Linked DNA regions of Homo sapiens: region 1 is linked to region 2. The links come from fine-mapping of genetic effects on gene expression. A gene starts in region 2. The other region holds a variant in brackets. All regions are shown on one strand. Distances are from middle to middle.

Region 1 (9,955 bases), 23 kb after region 2:
TGGGAATCCTGGAGTCTGAATGCCCCACCACAGACGGCAGTGATCAGAAAGATATTCTTCTCTGGGGAGGGCTGGGCCCCATCCACTCCCCAGTCAACTCCCCACATTCCAGGGAGATGCAGTGAGCTCTTCTCTGCAGCCAGCTCAGGCTCATGACTGCACTGCCAGGGAAGAGAGTAACATTGCTCCAGACCCATTTGTACCTGACTGCTCTAAAGGTTACCTTGGATCTGGGAAAGTTTGCTGAGTAAATTAATAACATAAGCAAGGACGTAAGAAGAACTTTAACCTACCTCACAGAATTCTATACTAAGAGGCCAAACTGTTTTTGAGAACCAAAGGACAATGCATACAACGAGTCTGGTTATTCCTAGAGAATCCTAACTGGGAGCTGACAATATTGATGGGGCTCCTGCCAAGTGCCGGGGCCTGTGCTCATCTCTTTATGGACTGTTTCATCCTTACATTGGTATTATCCTCATTTTGCAGCCAAGAAAATAAACTAATAGGAAGGAATAAGTAACTTGTCTAAAGTCATGCAGCCAAAATTCTAACCCAATGTCTACAAAGTCCATGACATTGCATTTTTCTTTTTCTTTTTTTAATTAAAAAGAGACCAGGCCGGGCGTGGTGGCTCATGCCTGTAATCCCAGGACTTTGGGAGGCCAAGGTGAGTTGATCACTTGAGGCCAGGAGTTCAAGACCAGCCTGGCCAACACAGTGAAACCCCATCTCTAGTAAAAATACAAAAAATTAACTGGGTATGATAGCGTGCACCTGTAATCCCAGCTACTTGGGAGGCTGAGGCAGGATAATTGCTTGAACCTGGTAGGAGGAGGTTGCAGGGAGCCGAGATTGCGCCCCTGCACTCCAGCCTGGGTGACACAGGGAGACTGTGTCTCAAAAAAAAAAAAAAAAAAAAAGAGACTGGGTCCGGGCTCACTATGTTGCCCAGACTGCTCGTGAACTCTTTGTTGTTGTTGTTGTTGAGACAGAGTTTCCTTTAGCTCTTGTTGCCCAGGCTGAAGTGCAATGGCACGATCTCGGCTCACTGCAACCTCTGCCTCCCAGGTTCAAGCAATTCTCCTCCCTCAGCCTCCCGAGTAGCTGGGATTACAGGCACCCGCCACCACACCTGGCTGGCTAATTTTTGTATTTTTAGTAGAGACAGGTTTCACCATGTCGACCAGGCTGGTCTCGAACTCCTGACCTCAAGTGATCTACCTGCCTCGGCCTCCCAAAGTGCTGGGATTACAGGTGTGAGCCACTGAGCCTGGCTAAGAGAAAGGCCTTGAACTCTTAAATTCCTGGCCTCAAGCAATCCTCCCATCTCAGCCTCCCAAGTGCTGGGATTACAGGAGTGAGCCACTACACCTGGCCAATATTTGTGTTTTTTTTTTTTTTTTTGAGATGGAGTCTCACTCAATAGCCCAGGCTGGAGTACAGTGGCGCGATCTCTGCTCATTGCAGCCTCCATCTCCCGGGTTCAAGCGATTCTCCCACCTTAGCCTCCCGAGTAGCTGGGACTACAGGTGCATGCCACCACGCCTGTCTAGTTTTTGTATTTTTAGTAGAGATGGGGTTTCATGACGTTGGCCTCGAACTCCTGATCTCAGGTGATCTGCCCACCTCAACCTCCCAAAGTGCTGGGATTACAGGCGTGAACCACTATGCCCGGCCCAAAGTTTGTATTTCTTAAAAAGGATTTTACAATGATAATTTTCCTCAAATTCAGAGCCCGCTTTCTACTTAGTATAACTGATGGGGTTTTCTAATGATAATATGAACCGTCCCACTCCCAGGAACACAGGCAGCAGGCCAAGCAGTGGCTCTCAGTGAGGGTGAGTGTGTGGGTTGGGGGAGGGGCAGCCCATGAACACCCCAAGCTACTTCCACACTCCAATGGTCAGGAGAATGCAGAATTGAAAGCAGGAACAGGAGTCTGTGGCCTGGAGCTCACATTTAACCAAATAGTTTTCAGAGCTGGCTCAGAAACAGTTCTCCAAACCACAGCACTCTGCAAAGCCCAGCTGAGATCATCAGATGGCCATCCCAGGACAAGCAAGCAGAACTCCTCGGCCTGGGGTCCTGTTTGCCAAAAGGAATCTGGATGTTGTGAGTGCCTCAAGTCACTGACTCCCCCTCCTCATGACCAGGGGATGATGAGCAGCTGTTTAATAAGCCACCGGTGTCAAACCCGGTGGCCGGGGGCCCAGGAAGAACCCCGACTTGGGAGTGCAGCCCCTTAGGCATCTCAGAGCCAGGGACAGGAAAGAAAGACAGGTTGTGTTGCCAGTGTGACTGAAGCAAATTACCTTCCCTGGGCTGGTTTCCTTTATCTATCTTGTCTATCTTTTCTTACCTCCCTCCCGGGACCTTGAGATGCCTTGGAAATCAGATGGGAAAAGCACTGTCACTCACTGCAGGGGTTGTGGTAATGCTGGTTACTGATGCCACTGGGAACACCAAGCTACAGGAGTCAGTCATTTGGGACAGTGCCAGCAGTCAGAGCACAGGTCACACTTGTTCCAAACCATGGCAGTCGGTGCTTGCTGCCCAAACTATTGTCTGAGTTTATTTTTTAAGAAATAAAAAAAAAAATTATCATAGAATACAAAGAACATAAAATACACCATTGTTACCATTTTTTTTTTCTCTTTTTGAGACAGAGTCTCACTCTGTTGCCCAGGCTGGAGTGCAATGGTGCAATCTCAGCTCACTGCAACCTCTGCCTCCCGGGTTCAAGCAATTCTCCTGCCTCAGCCTCCCAAGTAGATGGGATTACAGGCGCCCACCACTGCACCTGGCTAATTTTTTTTTGTATTTTTAGTAGAGATGGGGTTTCACCATATATGGTCAGGCTGGTCTCAAACTCCTGACCTCAGGTGATCCACCCGCCTCGGCCTCCCAAAGTGCTGGGATTACAGGCATTAGCCAACGCACCCAGCCCATTGTTACCATTTTCACGTGTCCAGTTCAGGAGTATTACATACATTCACATTGTTATGCAACCTATCTCCAGAACTTTTCATCTTGAAAATCTGAGATTCAAAAAATAAAAATAAAAAAATGAAAGAAAAAGAAAAAAAAAATAAAAAGAAGAAGAAGGAAAAAAGAAAAACCGAAATTCCATGCTCATTAAACAGCTCCCTATTTTCCCTCCCCCAGCCCCTGGCAACTAGCACTTTACTTTCTGTTTCTATAAATTTGACTTGAGTATTTTTTTTTTAATCAACAAAACTCTTAACTTGCACTGTCAATATATTCCAAATATTCCAATATATTCCAAAATATTCCACAGCAGGCCTGGGTCATGCTGGATTAGCAAAGACAAGGACTGGCCTAGATGGAGTCACACCCTCCCCAGCCTTGGGTTTGGGTAATTCTCAACACCCTAATTCATTCTCCCCTGGCAGCTGGAGAGACCCGTGGGACAGCCACTCACTGCAGAAGGGGCTGGTGAGAGACATGCTCGTCATCTCCGAGGGCCTGGCTCTGCGCCAGCCACACACTTATCTGCCTGCTCCATCTCCGGAGTTTCTGTCTCTGAGCTTTGGCAATGGAAGTTGTGCTTCCACTATTAGCCAACACCGAGCTGGACTCTGGTAACTGACACAGCCGTGCATCTAGTGTAGCTCGGGTTGAGATGACTTGGCTTTTTTTTTTTTTTTTTTTTTTTTGAGACGGAGTCTCGCTCCGTCACCCAGGCTGGAGTGCAGTGGCGGGATCTCGGCTCACTGCAAGCTCCGCCTCCCGGGTTCACGCCATTCTCCTGCCTCAGCCTCCCGAGTAGCTGGGACTACAGGCGCCCGCCACCACGCCCGGCTAATTTTTTGTATTTTTAGTAGAGACGGGGTTTCACCGTGTTAGCCGGGATGGTCTCGATCTCCTGACCTCGTGATCCGCCCGCCTCGGCCTCCCAAAGTGCTGGGATTACAGGCGTGAGCCACCGCGCCCGGCCGACTTGGCTTTTTAAATTGCCTTCTATGAATATATATTTGTCCTAAGACTGGACTGGCCACATGAAATCAGGTTTT[C/A]AAAACGGAACTGCCTGTGAGGATGTGTGAGTGTGGATGTCAGGTGGCAAGGGGCTGAGAAGGAAAGTGCAAGGGGGCCTCCCATCCCACATGACTCACACGTTGCTCACATACACACACCCAGCCCCCCCCCCCCAACCCCAACACACACACGCAGGGCTGTAAACCATATGATTAGGCTCCTGCCTGACTCTCCCAGGCCATCTCTCCCTGTGGTCCAGCCACCATGGGCTGCTTTCTGCTCCAAACACACTCAGGATTGCTGTGTCCCAGGGCCTGCTTGGTGTCCTCTGCGTAGACACTAGACCAGAGCTCACAGAGCCACCTCCCTCTCAATAATCAGCTCTCAGCTCAAATGCCACCTCTTTAAAGAAGACTTCCTTAGAAACGGCCTGATTTCTAGTTTCACCAAAAACTGACCCTGAGATGAGAATTTGGGTATATGGCTTATTTGGAAGGTGATCCTGAAATGAGTGAGAAAAGGAAATCCAAAAAAGCAGGCCAGTAAAGCGTGTGTCACTTAAGGAGCAGGTAACCACTGTAGGCAACTGGAGCTCATTCCCCAGGACTCCTGAGAGCTCTCGCAATGTCCCACCAATGGTTACAGAGGTGTTTGCCTTGGAGTAATTCATTAAGCTGCACGTTTGCTCTGTGTATTTTTCTGTATCTGGATTTTACAATACAAGATTTTTTGTTTTGTGTTTTGTGTTTTTTGAGACAGAGTCTCGCTCCGTCACCCAGGCTGGAGTGCAATGGTACGATCTCGGCTCACTGCAACCTCCGCCTCCCAGGTTCCAGCGATTCTCCTGCCTCAGCCTCCTGAGTAGCTGGGATTACAGGCACCTGCCACCATGCCTGGCTAATTCTGGTATTTTTTTAGTAGAGATGGGGTTTTACCATGTTGGCCAGGCTGGTCTCAAACTCCCAACCCCAGGTGATCCGCCTGTCTTGGCCTCCCAAAGGACTGGGATTACAGGTGAGAGCCACCATGCCTGGCCATTTTTTGTTTTTTGAGAGAGTCTCACTCTGTCACCCAGGCTGGTGTGCAATAGCGTAATCACTAAGTGCAGCCTTGACCTCCCAGGCTCCAATGATCCTCCTACCTCAGCTGATACTACAGGCATATGCCACTGTGAAAGAAAAATAAACCTTGGAGCCCTAAAAGCACTAAGCTAAAGGGAAAAGTCAAGATGGGAACTGCTAGGACAAACCTACCTCCCATTCTGTTGAAAGTCATTTCTCTGCTCAGCTGGGCAGGTGGCTCATGCCTGTAATCCCAGCACTTTGGGAGGCCGAGGCAGGCAGATCACGAGGTAAGGAGATTGAGACCATCCTGGCTAACATGGTGAAACCCCATCTCTACTAAAAATACAAAAAATTAGCCGGGCATGGTGGCAGGTGCCTGTAGTCCCAGCTACTCGGGAAGCTGAGACAGGAGAATGGCGTGAACCCAGGAGGTGGAGCTTGCAGTGAGCGGAGATCATGCCACTGCACTCCAGCCTGGGTGATAGAGCAAGAGTCCGTCTCAAAAAAAAAAAAAAATTAGGAAGTCATTCCTCTGCTTACTGAGATAGATGCATATCTGATTGCCTCCTTTGGAAAGGCTAATCAGAAAGTCAAAAGAATGCAACCCTTTGTCTCTCACCTACCTGTCACCTGGAAACCCTCTCCCTGCTTGAGTTGTCCCACCTTTCCGGACAGAACCAATGTACATATTACATTGATTGACTTCTCATGTCTCCCTAAAATGTATAAAACCAAGCTGTTGGCTGGCGCGGTGGCTCACGCCTGTAATCCTAGCACTTTGAGAGACCGAGGCAGATGGATCACCTGAGGTCAGGAGTTTGAGACCAGCCTGGCCAATGTGGTGAAACCCCGTCTGTACTAAAAATACAAAAATTAGCCGGGCGTGGTGGCGGGCACCTGTTATCACAGCTACTCGGGAGGCTGAGGGAGGAGAATCGCTTGAGCCTGGGGGGCAGAGGCTGCAGTGAGCTGAGATCACACCACTTCATTCCAGCCTGGGTGAAAGAGCGAAACTCCGTCTCAAAAAAAAAAAAAAAGAAAAAACCAAGCTGTGTGGCCGGGCGTGGTGGCTTACGCCTGTAATCCCAGCACTTTGGGAGGCCAAGGCAGGCAGATCACCTGAGGTCAGGAGTTCAAGACCAGCCTGACCAACATGGTGAAAACCCATCTCTACTAAAAAATACAAAAATGAGACGGGTGTGGTGTCATGTGCCTGTAATCCCAGCTACCTGGGAGGCTGAGGCAGGAGGATCGCTTGAATCCAGGAGGCGGAGGTTACAGTGAGCCATGATCATGCTACTACACTCCAGCCTGGATGACAGAGCAAGGCTCCGTCTCAAAAAAATAATAATAATTTAAAAAGTAAAAAATAAAAATAAAACCAAGCTGTGCCCCCACTACCTGGGCACATGTCATCAGGACCTCCTGAGGCTGTCATGAACTGGTCTCAAGTGATCCGCCTGCCTCGGTCTCCCAAAGTGTTGGGATTACAGGTGTGGGCTGCTGCTCCCAGCCAAAAATAAACTTTCTAAATTAACTGAGACCCTTCTTAGATTTTTACGGTTCCCACCACGAAGCCTGGCTAATTTTAAAATTTTCTGTAGAGATGGGGGTGTTGGCGGGTTGGGCCGAGGGAAGAGGGAGGTCTCACTATGTTCCTAGGCCTGGTTGTGAACTCATAGGCTCAAGCAATCCCCCCATCTCTGCCATGCAGCCAATACAAGATTTTTTTAAAGTTCCTCGGAGAGGTGAGGAGGCTGAGGTGCATGTTCACCGACTCCTGTCCCTCTTTGGTTGAAGGTTGCTCGTGGGGACACTTCGGATTGGTCTGGGGTAGAGGAGCAGAGAAAGCCCTCAGGCAGAGACCCAGGACAGCCTCTGCACAAATGGGCACTGTCTGGAGTGTACAGAGGACAGGAGAGGCCCTGAAGGGTGTCCAATGCCACCTCACCAATGTCACACCCACCTTCACCATGACTTTCTCTATCCAAATCCCAGGGGCCTAAGCTTCAGGACCCCTTACTGGCATGCCCCGTCCAGGCCCTAGGAGAGAGGTGTTGTTACTATTATCCTGTGTTTACAGATGAAGAAAATGACACACAGTGAGTGGAAGGAACTTGCCCACGGCTAGAGAGCAGCAGAAGAGGGCAAGTCTTATCCGCTGACAATCCCTTTCCTAATCTTTAAGGAAACAAAGCACAATGATGAAAAATTTAAAGGTTTAAGGTTTTAATAATGCTCCAGGTAGGCCGGGCATGGTGGCTCACACCTGTAATCTTAGCACTTTGGGAGGCTGAGGTGGGTGGATCACAATGTCAGGAGTTCAAGACTAGCCTGGCCAACATGGTGAAATCTCGTCTCTACTAAAAATACAAAATTAGCTGGGTGTGGAGGCACTTGAACCCAGGAGGCAGAATTTTTGGTGAGCCAAGATCACGCCACTGCATTCTAGCCTGGGCAACAGAGCAAGATTCCATCTAAAAATAAATAAATAAATAAATAAATAAATAAATAAATAAATAAATAAATGAATGAATAATAAAATTTTTCCAAGTATAGTCACAAGACAAAAAGGAGTGACTCATGAAAGGAGAGAGGACTTAAATACTCTTAAGTACTGGCTGTGGGTTAGCACAAGAAAGGAGTAAATGCAAGGAACTGGATAGAATGACTGATTTAGTGGCCGGGTGCAGTGGCTCGCGCCTGTAATCCCAGCACTTTGGGAGGCTGAGGCGGGCGCATCACCTGAGATTGGGAGTTTGAGACCAGCCTGACCAACATGGAGAAACCCCGTCTCTACTAAAAATACAAAATTAGCCGGGCATGGCAGGAGAATCACTTGAACCCAGGAGGCGGAAGTTGTGGTGAGCAGAGATCATGCCATTGCACTCCAGCCTGGGCAACAAGAGTGAAACTCTGTCTCAAAAAAAGGAATGACTGATTTAGGTACAGGAGAGCAGTTTGTTAATACACTTGTGCATAACTTTGCTCACCTTCTTTTTCTGTTGCTAAAGTAATTTGTAGGCCAGGTACAGTGGCTCATGCCTGTTATCCCAGCACTTTGGGAGGCCGAGGCAGGTGGATCACTTGCAGTCGGGAGTTCAAGACCAGCCTGGCCAACATAGCGAAACCCCATCTCTACTAAAAATAGAAAAATTAGCCAGGCGTGGTGGAGCACACCTGTCGTCCCAGATACTTGGGAGGCTAAGGCAGGAGGATTGCTTGAACCCAGGAGGGTTCAGTGAACTGAGATCATGCCCCTGTACTCCAGCCTGGGCGACAGAGCCAGACCCTGTCTCAAAAAGAAAAAAAAGTAATTTGTAGAAATTCACATAAAAGTAGCAAAAAGGTATATAAGTTGTCCATAATCCCAGCTCTCAAAGGCCACCATTATGAATGCTTTTGTAAGTTATGAATGAATGCTTTTGTAAGTCATTATGAGTGCTGGGGTTACAGGCTTGAGCCACCCATGCCCGGCCAAAGCAGATCTGTGTTCCCTGTTCTGTCCTTCCCAGTCTACTTACCTTCATTTATCCAATCACAGACCCCAAGACCCACAGACCCCAAGACCCACAGACCACAGTAAAAGGTCCTAAGGTAGAAAAGCCAGACCAGAAGCTGAGCGCTGGGCTTTTCCCCCACCATGTGCCACTGTCCCCTAACATTTGTACCAGCTGCTTCATCATAACCATACAGAAAATGGTACCTGGCCAGCCTCTTCCTAGGTTAGCGTGCAGCTCCCTGACATACTTGCAAGTCTCATTCCAGGTCAGGTCTGTGGTGCTATAAATCCAGCTCTGTCTATCTCTCAACTAGAGGCGTCTGGGTCAGGGGCATTGCCTCTGACTGATGGACACTGAAGTTCTGCAGCTCCCGAAGGTCACAGGAAAGAGGCGTTGAGGGGTGGAGGGTGAATGTTACCCTCTATTTGTAATCTTGGAATGCAGAGACGTAGCCTTTGCTCTTCCCTCTGCCCAGCACTATCTTCCTCCCAAAAGCTGCACCACTTACTCTCACTTCCTTCAGAGATCATCTTGCCAGAGGCCTTTCCTGGCCAATCTCTCTTTTTTTTTTTTTTTTTTTTTTTGAGAGGGAGTTTCACTCTTATTGCCCAGGCTGGAGTGCAATGGCACGATCTCAGCTCACAGCAACCTCTGCCTCCCGGGTTCAAGCCATTCTCCTGCCTCAGCCTCCCGAGTAGCTGGAATTACAGGCATGCGCCACCACGCTTGGCTAATTTTGTATTTTTAGTAGAGATGGGGTTTCTCCATGTTGGTCAGGCTGGTCTCGAACTCCAGACCTCAGGTGATCCGCCCACCTCGGCCTCCCAAAGTGCTGGGATTACAGGCGTGAGCCACTGCACCCGGCGTGGCCAATCTCTATACAGTAACCACCCCACTCACGCACACCCTTGGCCCTTTCCAGAGCCTTACCCTGCTTCTTCTTCACAGCACATTCCACTTGTTTTATATATATATCTGTGTGCATACATAAATATATATATTTGGATTTATTGACTGTACCCTGTACCCTCTTCCCACTGGAAAGAAAGGCCCATAGGGGAGGAACTTTGTTTTGGCTCTTAGCTGTATTATCATTACCCACTAGCACAGCTGCAGTCAATAAATATTTGTTGACGGGATTAATGAAATCTCTCCTCCCACTTATATTACTGTCCTTGCAGTTTCTAATTTCAACTTACAAGTGGACTATGAACTGCAAATTACTACACTGTGCACTGATGCTAATTAAAAAATCATTAGGATGGCCTGGAATGAACTTGGCTTAATTTTAATCTGCCACCTGAATGTGGTCCAGGTTCCAGGTGAAAACAAATACAGGATCCTTCAGGATTTGAGACCTGCAGTACAGTAATTCCAGCAGAGATAAGC
Region 2 (9,955 bases):
AGAAATAGATAACATAAAATTCTTACGATTATTTGCTTGAAGTGAATAAAGAATGTTTTCTGTATTACTCTTCTATGAATTACAGTAGTCAATACCATTCAATCTCAACTGTTATCACTATTGAAATGGCCTCAAAAATAAACTGCCCTTTCAAAAATCAAGCAGATGGAAAAGGAAAAATCCATATTGATTTCAAAAGTACAGCTGCCCTCATCTGAAAACTACTTCATCTTAAATTTCCTAATATGATCATGGCTGGCTGCGATTCACCACAGCTTCCAACAGCCGACTGGAGAGCGTTTTTCCAGAATAACTAGTATGTTTGCTTCAAGACAAATTATTTGACAAGGTTAAGGAAAAGATGTGAAAGCTAGATAATCCATTAAGAATCTTTTTTTAAAACTTCAAGGCATTTTATTTATACTTCTTTTTTTTTTTTTTGAGACAGTCTCGCTCTGTCGCCCAGGCTAGTGTGCAGTGGTGCAATCTCAGCTCACTGCAACCTCCGCCTCCCGGGTTCAAGCTGTTTTCTGCCTCAGCTTCCCAAGTAGCTGGGATTACAAGCACCCACCGCCATGCCCAGCTAATTTTTGTATTTTTAGTAGAGACGGGGTTTCACCATCTTGGCCAGGCTGGTCGTGAACTCCTGACCTTGTGATCCACCCACCTCGGCCTCCCAAAGTGCTGGAATTACAGGCGTGAGCCACCATGCCTGGCTATACTTCTTAGCTTACTTTTTTATTACGCGTATATATTAAGAACTTTTAAAAGTCCAAATTAAAGAAGCATGCCTAGACATCATTAAAATAGCTATCAATGCCCATGACAATCCTGTAGCTCAAATAGTTTACTTTAGAATGTCAAAATTGATTTTGTAATAGTCAGGACAGGATAAACAGTCGCTATATTAAGACCATGTACGTGTCCCTAGACCTAGTTCTTTCCCTACGTCTGTTTTTATAAATGCTGGTGATAAACCAGGTCTGATTAATATATAATCATTTTGTGTGATTATGTAACGGCTATAATTCTAGGTTATCTTTGGTCAACCTTAAGAAAAATGGCAGTATATGTAATGACTTTTGCAAATGATCAGTGCTAATTTGCAGACTTTTGTTTAAAGAGGGTTTAAACAAAATAAGAAAATTTCATGATTACCAGTTGCTATTAAATGAATTGTAACTTTTTTTAAAAAAAAAGAATGTCCAAGCCAGGTGTGGTGCTCATGCCTGTAATCCCAGCACTTTGGGAAGCCAAGAAGGGCAGATCACTTAAGGTCAGGAGTTCAAGACCAGCCTGGCCAACATGGTGAAACCCCGTCTCTAGTAAAAATACAAAAAGTTGCTGGACGTGGTGGCACACACCTGTAATCCCAGCTACTCGGGAGGGTGAGGCAGGAGAATCGCTTGAACCCAGGAGGCAGAGGTTGCAGTGAGCCAAGATCTTGACACTGCACTCCAGCCTGGGCAACAGAGCGCAACTCCATCTCAGAAAAAAAAAATGGTATATCCAGATTCACATTTTTTTTCAAACTCTGCATTTTTCTTTCTTTCTTTTATTTTTTAATGTTTTTGAGACAAAGCCTCACTCTGTCACACAGGCTAGAGTGCAGTGCCACAATCTCAGCTCATTTCTCAGCTCATTGAAGCCTCGACCTCCTGGGCTCAAGCAATCTTCCCACCTCAGCCTCAGCAATAGGTGGGACCACAAACATGGGCCACCACGCCCAGTTAAATTTTTTTTTTTTTTTTTTGAGACGGAGTCTTGCTCTGTCGCCCAGTCTGGAGTGCAGTGGTGCGATCTCGGCTCACTGCAAGCTCCGCCTCCCGGTTTCATGCCATTCTCCTTCCTCAGCCCCCCAAGTAGCTGGGGCTACAGGCGCCCCCCCCACCATGCCTGGCTAATTTTTTTTGTATTTTTAGTAGAGATGGGGTTTCACCGTGTTAGCCAGGATGGTCTGGATCTCCTGACCTTGGAGACCGCCTTGGCCTCCCAAAGTGCTGGGATTACAGGCATGAGCCACCATACCCGGCATAATTTTTGTATTTTTTATAGAGGTGGGTTTTTGCCATGTTGCCCAGGCTTGTCCCGAACCCCTGCCCTCAAGCGATCCCCCTACCTCGGCCTCCCAAAGTGCTCAGACTACAGACGTAAGCCTCCGCACACCTTTTGGACTGGTGTGCCAGTTCACACATGCCTGTGATAGCAACTGCGTTCTGAACTGCAGGGATACATTTACTTGTCAGCACCTGAAAACTTCCTCCTGAGTTGAGTCCAATTATCAGCTTCATGTGCCATCTGCCAATCCAGATGAAACTTGGCAAATACAAAGCTGTCCTTTTCCAGGTGACACTCCCCACCTTCTTTTTCCTCCACCATTTCATTAACAACTAAAAAGCTCCTGCATGATCAGACCTGTGTATCTATCCATCATCAAATCCCACTCCTTTTTCGAGACTGGGACCCTCTGGAGGCTGACCCAGCCACGCATTTGCTAGCATGCCCTGCAGACATGACCCTCGCTGGGCTCTGATCAGCCTTCAGGCCTCCACTCCAGGTGTCACTGTTCTGTCTCCCCTCTGCTCTCACAGCCTTCTCTGCTAGATGTCTCAGCCGTGCTGGCCCTCTCTATTTCAGAAGTGAATGTACTGAGAGGGTCTTAGGGACTTATTAATAATGCTCCTGGGGTCGGATGTAGTAGCTCATGCCTGTGATCCCAATACTTTGAGATCACTTGAGCCCAAGCGTTTGAGACCAGCCTGGGCAACAAGGTGAGGCCCCATCTCTATCAAAAATTCAAAAAAGTAGCCAAGCATGGTGGTGCACGCCTGTGATCCCAGCTCCTCGGGAGACTGGGGTGGGAGGATGGCTTAAGCTCAGGTCAAGACTGAAGTGAGACATGAGGCCACCACTGCACTCCAGCCTGGGCAACAGAGCAGGACTCTGTCTCAAAAAAAACAAAACCCACTATAACCATAATACTATTATCACACTTAAGAAATTCATAATTCCTTAATATCATCACATATCCAATTGATATCTGAGTTCAATTATTTCATGTCAATGTTTTTAAACTATTTCAATCAGAATCTAAATGAGGTCAACACGTTGCAATTGGTTGGTATGTCTTTTAAACTCCTTTTAATCTACAGGTTTCTCTTTTTTTGCCTTGAGTTTCATTTATTAGAGAACCCAGACATTGTCCCATATAGTCTCCCAGAGTTGGATCTTGCTAGTTTCATCCCCACGGCCTAGTTTAACACATTCCTCTGTCCTTTCTATTTTCTTTTTTTTTTCTTGAGAGGGAGTCTCCGTCTGTCCCCCAGGCTGGAGTGCAGTGGCTCCGTCTCAGCTCACTGCAACCTCTGCCTCCCAGTTCGAGCGATTCCCCTGCCTCAGCCTCCTGAGTAGCTGGGATTACAGGCGCCTGCCACTACGCCCAGCTAATTTTTTTATATTTTTAGTAGAGACGGGGGTTTCACCATCCTGATCAGGCTGGTCTCGAACTCCCGACCTCAGGTGATGGACCCGCCTCTGCCTCACAGAGTGCAAGGATTACAGACGTGAGCCACCGCACCCGGCCAAATGTCCTTTCTATTTTCTATAAATTAACAGTCAGATCTAGGGGCTCGATCAGATTTGTGTGTGTGTGTGTGCCGTGTGCGCGTGCACAGCATGTTCTTTGACTAGGAGGCACACCTGCTTTGGTTATCTTCTTTTTGTAATCTTTAAGTTGCTCTTTGATGTAGACGTGGTAACTAATGTTGAAACAAAATTAGTTTCGTTTCAAAACCTTTCTTTCAGGAAGAGGTTGTGGTTGATTACTTCTGCGACAGGTAGATGCAAGGTTGAGCAATCATCTCTTAACAGAAGTGGTCACACTAGAATAATTCAAGCACAACAACAAATCCCACATCATCACCCCCTCTTAATAATGGTGTTTTCTTTTTACTTGATTAGCTTTTAATTGTCACGCACTCTGCATTTTTTCCCTGAGGTATTATTTCCAGAAGGCAGCGAAATATGACTCAATGGCTAATTTGCTTTTTAAAAATTAAACAAAACTTAGGCCAGCTGCCATTTAAGAAGGGCTCCGGGGCCTCCAGACTCGGTGTGACCGTAGCCGTGCCCGGTGCTCCCCTCGCGGAGGCGTTAGGGCGGCAGGTTTATCTCACTTGAGACCATTCCTTCCTTTTTCATCTTCTCCGGGCTCCGGCGCAGCAGGCCGCAGGGGCGGGCACTCGCAAGAACGCGGCATCCTGGATGGTGGCCGAGTCACCGAAGCTCAGAACCCCGCGTCCCAGAATCGCTGAGAGCCGGCCCCGCACGGGGGCCTGGGAGCGCCACGCGCCCTCCACCCAGAGAGGCAGGCGGGCGGGCCGGGGGGGGCGGGGCCTCGGGACTCCGCCCACGCCTCCGTCTCCTCCGCGCTCCGCCACAGCCGGCCGACACCACACCAGCCGGGGAGCCGCCGCCGCCGCCGCCACCTCTGAGCAGCCGGCTGGGAGCGAGAGCCGACAGCTAGTCTGCAAGCCACCGCTGTCGCCATGGGGAGCCGCGTCTCGCGGGAAGACTTCGAGTGGGTCTACACCGACCAGCCGCACGCCGACCGGCGCCGGGAGATCCTGGGTGAGGGCCAGCGGGCGCCCCGTTATGTGCGTGCGTGGCCTCCCGGCGCCGGGGCGCGCTCTCCCCTCGCGGGCCCTGCGCGGTCGTGGGCGCCGGAGGCCCGTTAGCAGCCTGCTCCCCGTCGCGTCCCGTCGCCGCTCGGGCCGCCAGCCCGCGGGTCAGCGCGGGAGAGGCTGGGCGAGGAGCGGGGGGAGGGACGGGTCCTCGGAGCCGCGCAGCTCCGACCCTTCCGCGAAGAGGCGCAGGCGCGTCCCCGAGCGCGGGAGTCCCCGCCAGGCCCACGCCGGCCGGTTGGGGCGAAGGGTGTCCCCGGCTGTGCCAGCCTTGAGTAGATCTTTTCGCTAGAAGATTCCTGTGCCCTCAGGTGGGCGCCCTTTCCTCTCACCACTCCCTCTCCTCCGGAGCGGGCCGAGGTGAGCGGGTGCCGGCCTTGGGGCTGCCTGAGTGCTAGGCAGGGTGTGGTCCTGGGCATCCTTGGGCCTACCAGCGAGCCCTGCTCAGGGTGTCGGGCGCCGGCGGGCAGTACTGGCGGGGGCGGCCGCAGTCCCGGCCTTGGGCCCGTTAAGGGGGCCGGCGTCCCTCCATATGCCCCCCGGGGCTTCTCGGACTTGATGGGCCCTGGTCGGTTCACGCCGCTTGTCCCATTGATCCTCACGACAAGCCTGGGACGTAAGAACGGCGGATTCGTAGGCATTTTTCATCCATCTCGGTTTTGTGGATGAAAAGACTGAAAATGGAAGACTTGCCAAATAAGGAAAATATGTGGCGTGGCCTGCTGGTCCCCTGACAGCTAATTGAGAGGCCTTAACTCTCCAGAGGATTCGGGCCTTCTGTGTTACATAGAGAATGCTCATCTCTCCCAGGCTACTCCTAATATGCTAGGGATTGTGTGGAATGCTTTACAAACATTACCCAATTTCATCCTCTTGGTAATTCTACTTGGTTGGTATTATCGCTGTTTTAAAAAATGAAATAAGAACGCGTGACTAAATGCTAGGGGGATTCTAATGCGCATTCGGTTGCCTCTTCCAGAGCACGTGTTTGTTTTTTGTTTGTTTGTTTTTTGAGACTGCACGTGTTTGTTTTTTGTTTGTTTGTTTGTTTGTTTTTTGAGACTGAGTCTCACTCTGTTGCTCATGCTGGAGTGCAGTGGCGCGATCTCCACTCGCTGCAACCTCTGCCTCCTGGGTTCAAGCGATTCTTCTGTCTCAGCCTCCCGAGTAGCTGGGATTACAGGTTCCCACCACTACGCCTGGCTAATGTTTGTATCTTTTTTAGTTAGAGACGGGGTTTCACCATGTTGGCCAGGCTTATCTCGAACTCCTGACCTCAGGTGATCCGCCCGCCTTGGCCTCCCGAAGTTTTGGGATTACAGGCGTGAACCACCGTGCCCGGCCAGAGCACGAGCTTTTTAACCTCTGTTGAGGAAACGGGGACCGGTCACGGTAGCTCAGGCCTGTAATCCTAGCACTTCGGGAGGCTGAGGCGGGAGGATCGCTTCAGCCCAGAAGTTTGAGACCATCCTGAGTAACATAGTGAGAGCCCCCCGTTTACACACACACACACACACACACACACACACACACACTTTTTTTAAATTGAGGAAACGGTGAGTTGAACATGAGCAATTATTCCTTATATATAGTATTTCCTTAGTTTTTCTTCTCAACATTCATTTGCCCAGTGAAAAGAAAAAGCAAGTAGCTGGGACCACAAGCGCACACCACCATGCCTGGTTGATTTTTCTATTTTTTGTAGAGATGGGTTTCTCCGTGTTGCCCAGGCTGGTCTTGAACTCCTGGGCTCAAGCAATCTGTCCGCTTTGGCCTCCCAAAGTGCTGGGATTTTAAAGGCGTAAGCCACTGCACCCGGTAACTTTGGGTTCTTGAATTCCCTTCCTCCTCTTCTTCCTCCTCCCCTACACTCCATTAGAGAAAGGGTCTTGCTTTGTTGCCCAAGCTGGAGTGCGGTGGTTGTTCACAGGCATGATGATCACTGCAGCCTGGGCTCCAGTGGTCCGCATACCTCAGCCTGCCAGTAGCAATTTGTTTGGCACATCACTTACACATACTTGATATGAGATAGCATGATACTTTTTTGAGACGGAGCCGCACTCTGTCACCCAGGCTGGAGTGCAGTGGCCCAGTCTCGGCTCACTGCAACCTCTCCCTCCTGGGTTCAAGCAGTTCTGCCTGCCCCAGTCTCCCGAGTACCTGGGATTACAGACGCCCGCCACCATACCTGGCTAAGTTTTTCTATTTTTATTTTTAGTAGAGACAGGGTTTTGCCACATTGGCCAGGCTGGTCTCAGATGATGCGCCTGCCATGGCCTCCCAAAGTCCTGGGATTACAGGCGTGAGCCACCCTGCCAGGCCACATATGATATATTTTATCAATGCCTTATCTACATGTTACATAGGAATAATCTAGCGTCCTACCTGTGTAAAAACCAACTCTGGAATACTGAAACTGAGCTACTTAATATTCTGAAAATCAGGACGGGTGTGGTGGCTTTTTTTTGCCTGTAATCCGAGCACTTTGAGAAGCTGAGGCAAGAAGATCGCTTGAGGCCAGTTCAGAACAGCCCCATCTGCACGAGAAATTAAAAAATTAGCTAGGCGTGCATGCCTGTCCCGCTACTCAGAAGGCTGAGGCGAGAGGAACACTTGAACTCAGGAGTTCGAGGCCAACCTGGGCAACATGGCAAAACCCCATCTCTACCAAAAAAAAAAAAATTTAATTAGCGGGACATGGTGGCATGTGCCTGTGGTCCCAGCTACACAGAAGGCTGAGGTGGGAGGATTGCTTGAGCTGGGGAGGTAGAGGCTGCAGTGAGCCGTGATTGCCCCACCGCGTTCCAGCCTGGGCAACAGAGTGAGACTGTCTCAAGAAAAAGAGATGAAGGAAGTGAGAAGGTGCTGATTGATACTTACCTCACACTGAGCCTTTTTTCCCCCCACAGACTTATCACTGAACCATTTCACTGGGAAAGTAAAAGGACCACATATTTCTTGGCCGGGCATGGTGGCTCACGCCTGTAATCCCAGCACTTTAGGAGGCTAAGGTGGGCGGATCATGAGGTCAGGAGATCGAGACCATCCTGGCTAACACGGTGAAACCCCATCTCTACTAAAAATACAAAAAATTAGCCGGGCGTGGCGGCAGCCACCTGTAGTCCCAACTACTCAGGAGGCCGAGGCAGGAGAATGGCGTGAACCCGGGAGGCAGAGCTTGCAGTGAGCTGAGATGGTGCCACTGCACTCCAGCCTGGGCGACAGAGTGAGCCTCCGTCTCAAAAAAAAAAAAAAAAAAAAAAGAAGGACTACATATTTCTCAATGAAAATACAGTGTACAATGTTTTCCATGCAGGTGTAAATACTAACTCATGTTCTGTTTCAGGGTGGGAGATGGAATAACCTGTAGAAAGAATCTTTAGATTTGTTTAAATTATACACAAATGATAAGAGATCTTTCTGAAAGTATTGACTTTTTGGCGGGGGAGGGAAGGGGCCTGATAGAACAACCAACAATTGTACACTTTAAGTTTACATTTAGAGTTCACATTAAAAGTTCATTTACAAGGCATCTGTTTGAAATTCGTGAGGATGAGCTGGGCTGGGTGGCTCATGGCTGTAATCCCAGCCCTTGGGTGGCTGAGGTGGACAGGTCACCTGAGGTCAGGAGTTCAAGACCAGTCTGGCCAACATGGTGAAACCCCGTCTCTACTAAAAATACAAAAATTAGCTGGGTGTGGTGGTGGGCGCCTGTAATCCCAGCTACTGGGAAGGCTGAGGCAGGAGAATTGCTTGAACCCAGGAGGCAGAGGGTGCAGTGAGCTGAGATCTCACCATTGCACTCCAGCCTGGGCAACAGAGCGAGACTCCGTCTCAAAAAAAAAAAAGAATAAATCACAAGAAATGGTTCCTTCACTGTTATACTTTAACATGATACAGCTTTTTAATGTTTTATTTTTTGAGAGAGAGTCTCACTGTGTTGCCCAGGCTGGAGTGCAGTGGTGTGATCATAAATTCTTGGGCTCAAGTGATGCTCCCGCTTCAGCATCCTAAGTAGCTGGGACTACAGGCTTGTGCCACCTCACCTGGCTAATTTTTTTTATTTTTGGTAGAAATAGAATCTGTTTGCCCAGGCTGGTCTTGAACACTGGGCCTCAGGCAGTCTTTGTGCCTCAGCCTCCCAAAGTGCTGGATTAATGGTGTGAGCCACAGCACCTGGCCAATAGCTTTATTGAGATTATAATTCAACTATCATGATTTATTCATTTAAAGTGTACAGTTCAGTATTTTTTAGTATATTCACAGAGTTGTGCAGCTGTCACCACCATATAACCTTAGAACATTTCATCATCACCAAAAGAAACCCTATACTCATTAGCAGTCCCTCATATCCCCTGCTTCTACCTAGGTAACCACTAATCTACTTTGTGGCCTATAGATTTGCTTATTCTGGACATTTCATATACATGAAATCATAAAATACCTGATCTTTTATGATTGGCTTTTACTTAGCATAATATAAATTTTTTTTTTTTTTTAATTTGTAGAGACAGGGTCCTGTTATGTTGCCCAGGCTGATCTTGAATTCCTGGGCTCAAGTGATCCTCCTGCCTTGGCCTCTCAGAGTGCTGGCATTATAGGTGTGAGCCACTGCACCCAGCCATTAGCATAATATTTTAGCTGGGCACAGTGGCATGCTCCTGTAGTCCCAGCTACTAGGGTGACTGAGGCAGGAGGATCACTTGAGTCCAGGAGTTTGAGGCTGTAGTGAGCTATGATGGCATCACTGTACTTCAGCCTGAGTGACAGAGGTAGACCCTGTCTCTAAATATTTTAAGGTTCATTAAAATAATATATTTTCAATAAAATAATATTTCAATAAAATAATATTTTAAGGTTCATTCATGTTATAGCATATGTCAGTGTATGATTCCTTTTTCTGGCTGAATAATATTCCTTTGTATGGATATACCAGGTGTTTAACATTTTGAGGAACTGCTGTACAGTTTTCCAAAGCAGCTGCACCATTTTATATTCCCACTAGCAAAGTATGAGGGTTCTAATTTCTCCACATCCTTGTTTTTACCTACCTTTTTTTATTATAGTCATCCTAGTGAGTGTGAGGTGGTATCTATGGTTTCAGTTTGCACTTTCCTAATGACTAACGGTGTTGAGCCTCTTTCATGTGTTTCTTGACTGTTTCCGTATCTTTTGGAGAAAAGTGGGTTCAGATCCTTTGCCCATTTTTTAATTGGATTATTAGTTGTAAGAGTTCTTCATATATTCTGGATATAGGTCCCTTATGAGATACA

What was found.
Region 1: its variant is fine-mapped to the expression of DEGS1 in monocytes after LPS (Quach 2016, PIP 0.95).

What each region holds. Positions count from the first base shown.
Region 1 is chr1:224,201,472-224,211,426 of GRCh38, forward strand. LOC101927143 (a long non-coding RNA gene) reads right to left here. Exons shown (of 2, transcript NR_110669.1): 2 at 7,276-7,540. Among named protein-coding and RNA genes, the nearest start is that of DEGS1, 23 kb to the left of the region's middle. RefSeq lists a silencer at 3,490-3,539 and an enhancer at 9,412-9,581. The variant C/A (reference allele first, on the strand shown) is at 4,038.
Region 2 is chr1:224,178,790-224,188,744 of GRCh38, forward strand. DEGS1 (delta 4-desaturase, sphingolipid 1) reads left to right here and starts at 4,451. Exons shown (of 3, transcript NM_003676.4): 1 at 4,451-4,629. The coding sequence starts at 4,548. LOC124900425 (small nucleolar RNA SNORA72) reads left to right here and starts at 852; the gene lies at 852-978. RefSeq lists enhancers at 3,627-3,776, 3,630-4,460, 4,037-4,126, 4,461-5,290, 6,764-6,823 and 1 more and silencers at 4,277-4,476, 4,577-4,956, 5,117-5,196, 6,498-6,792.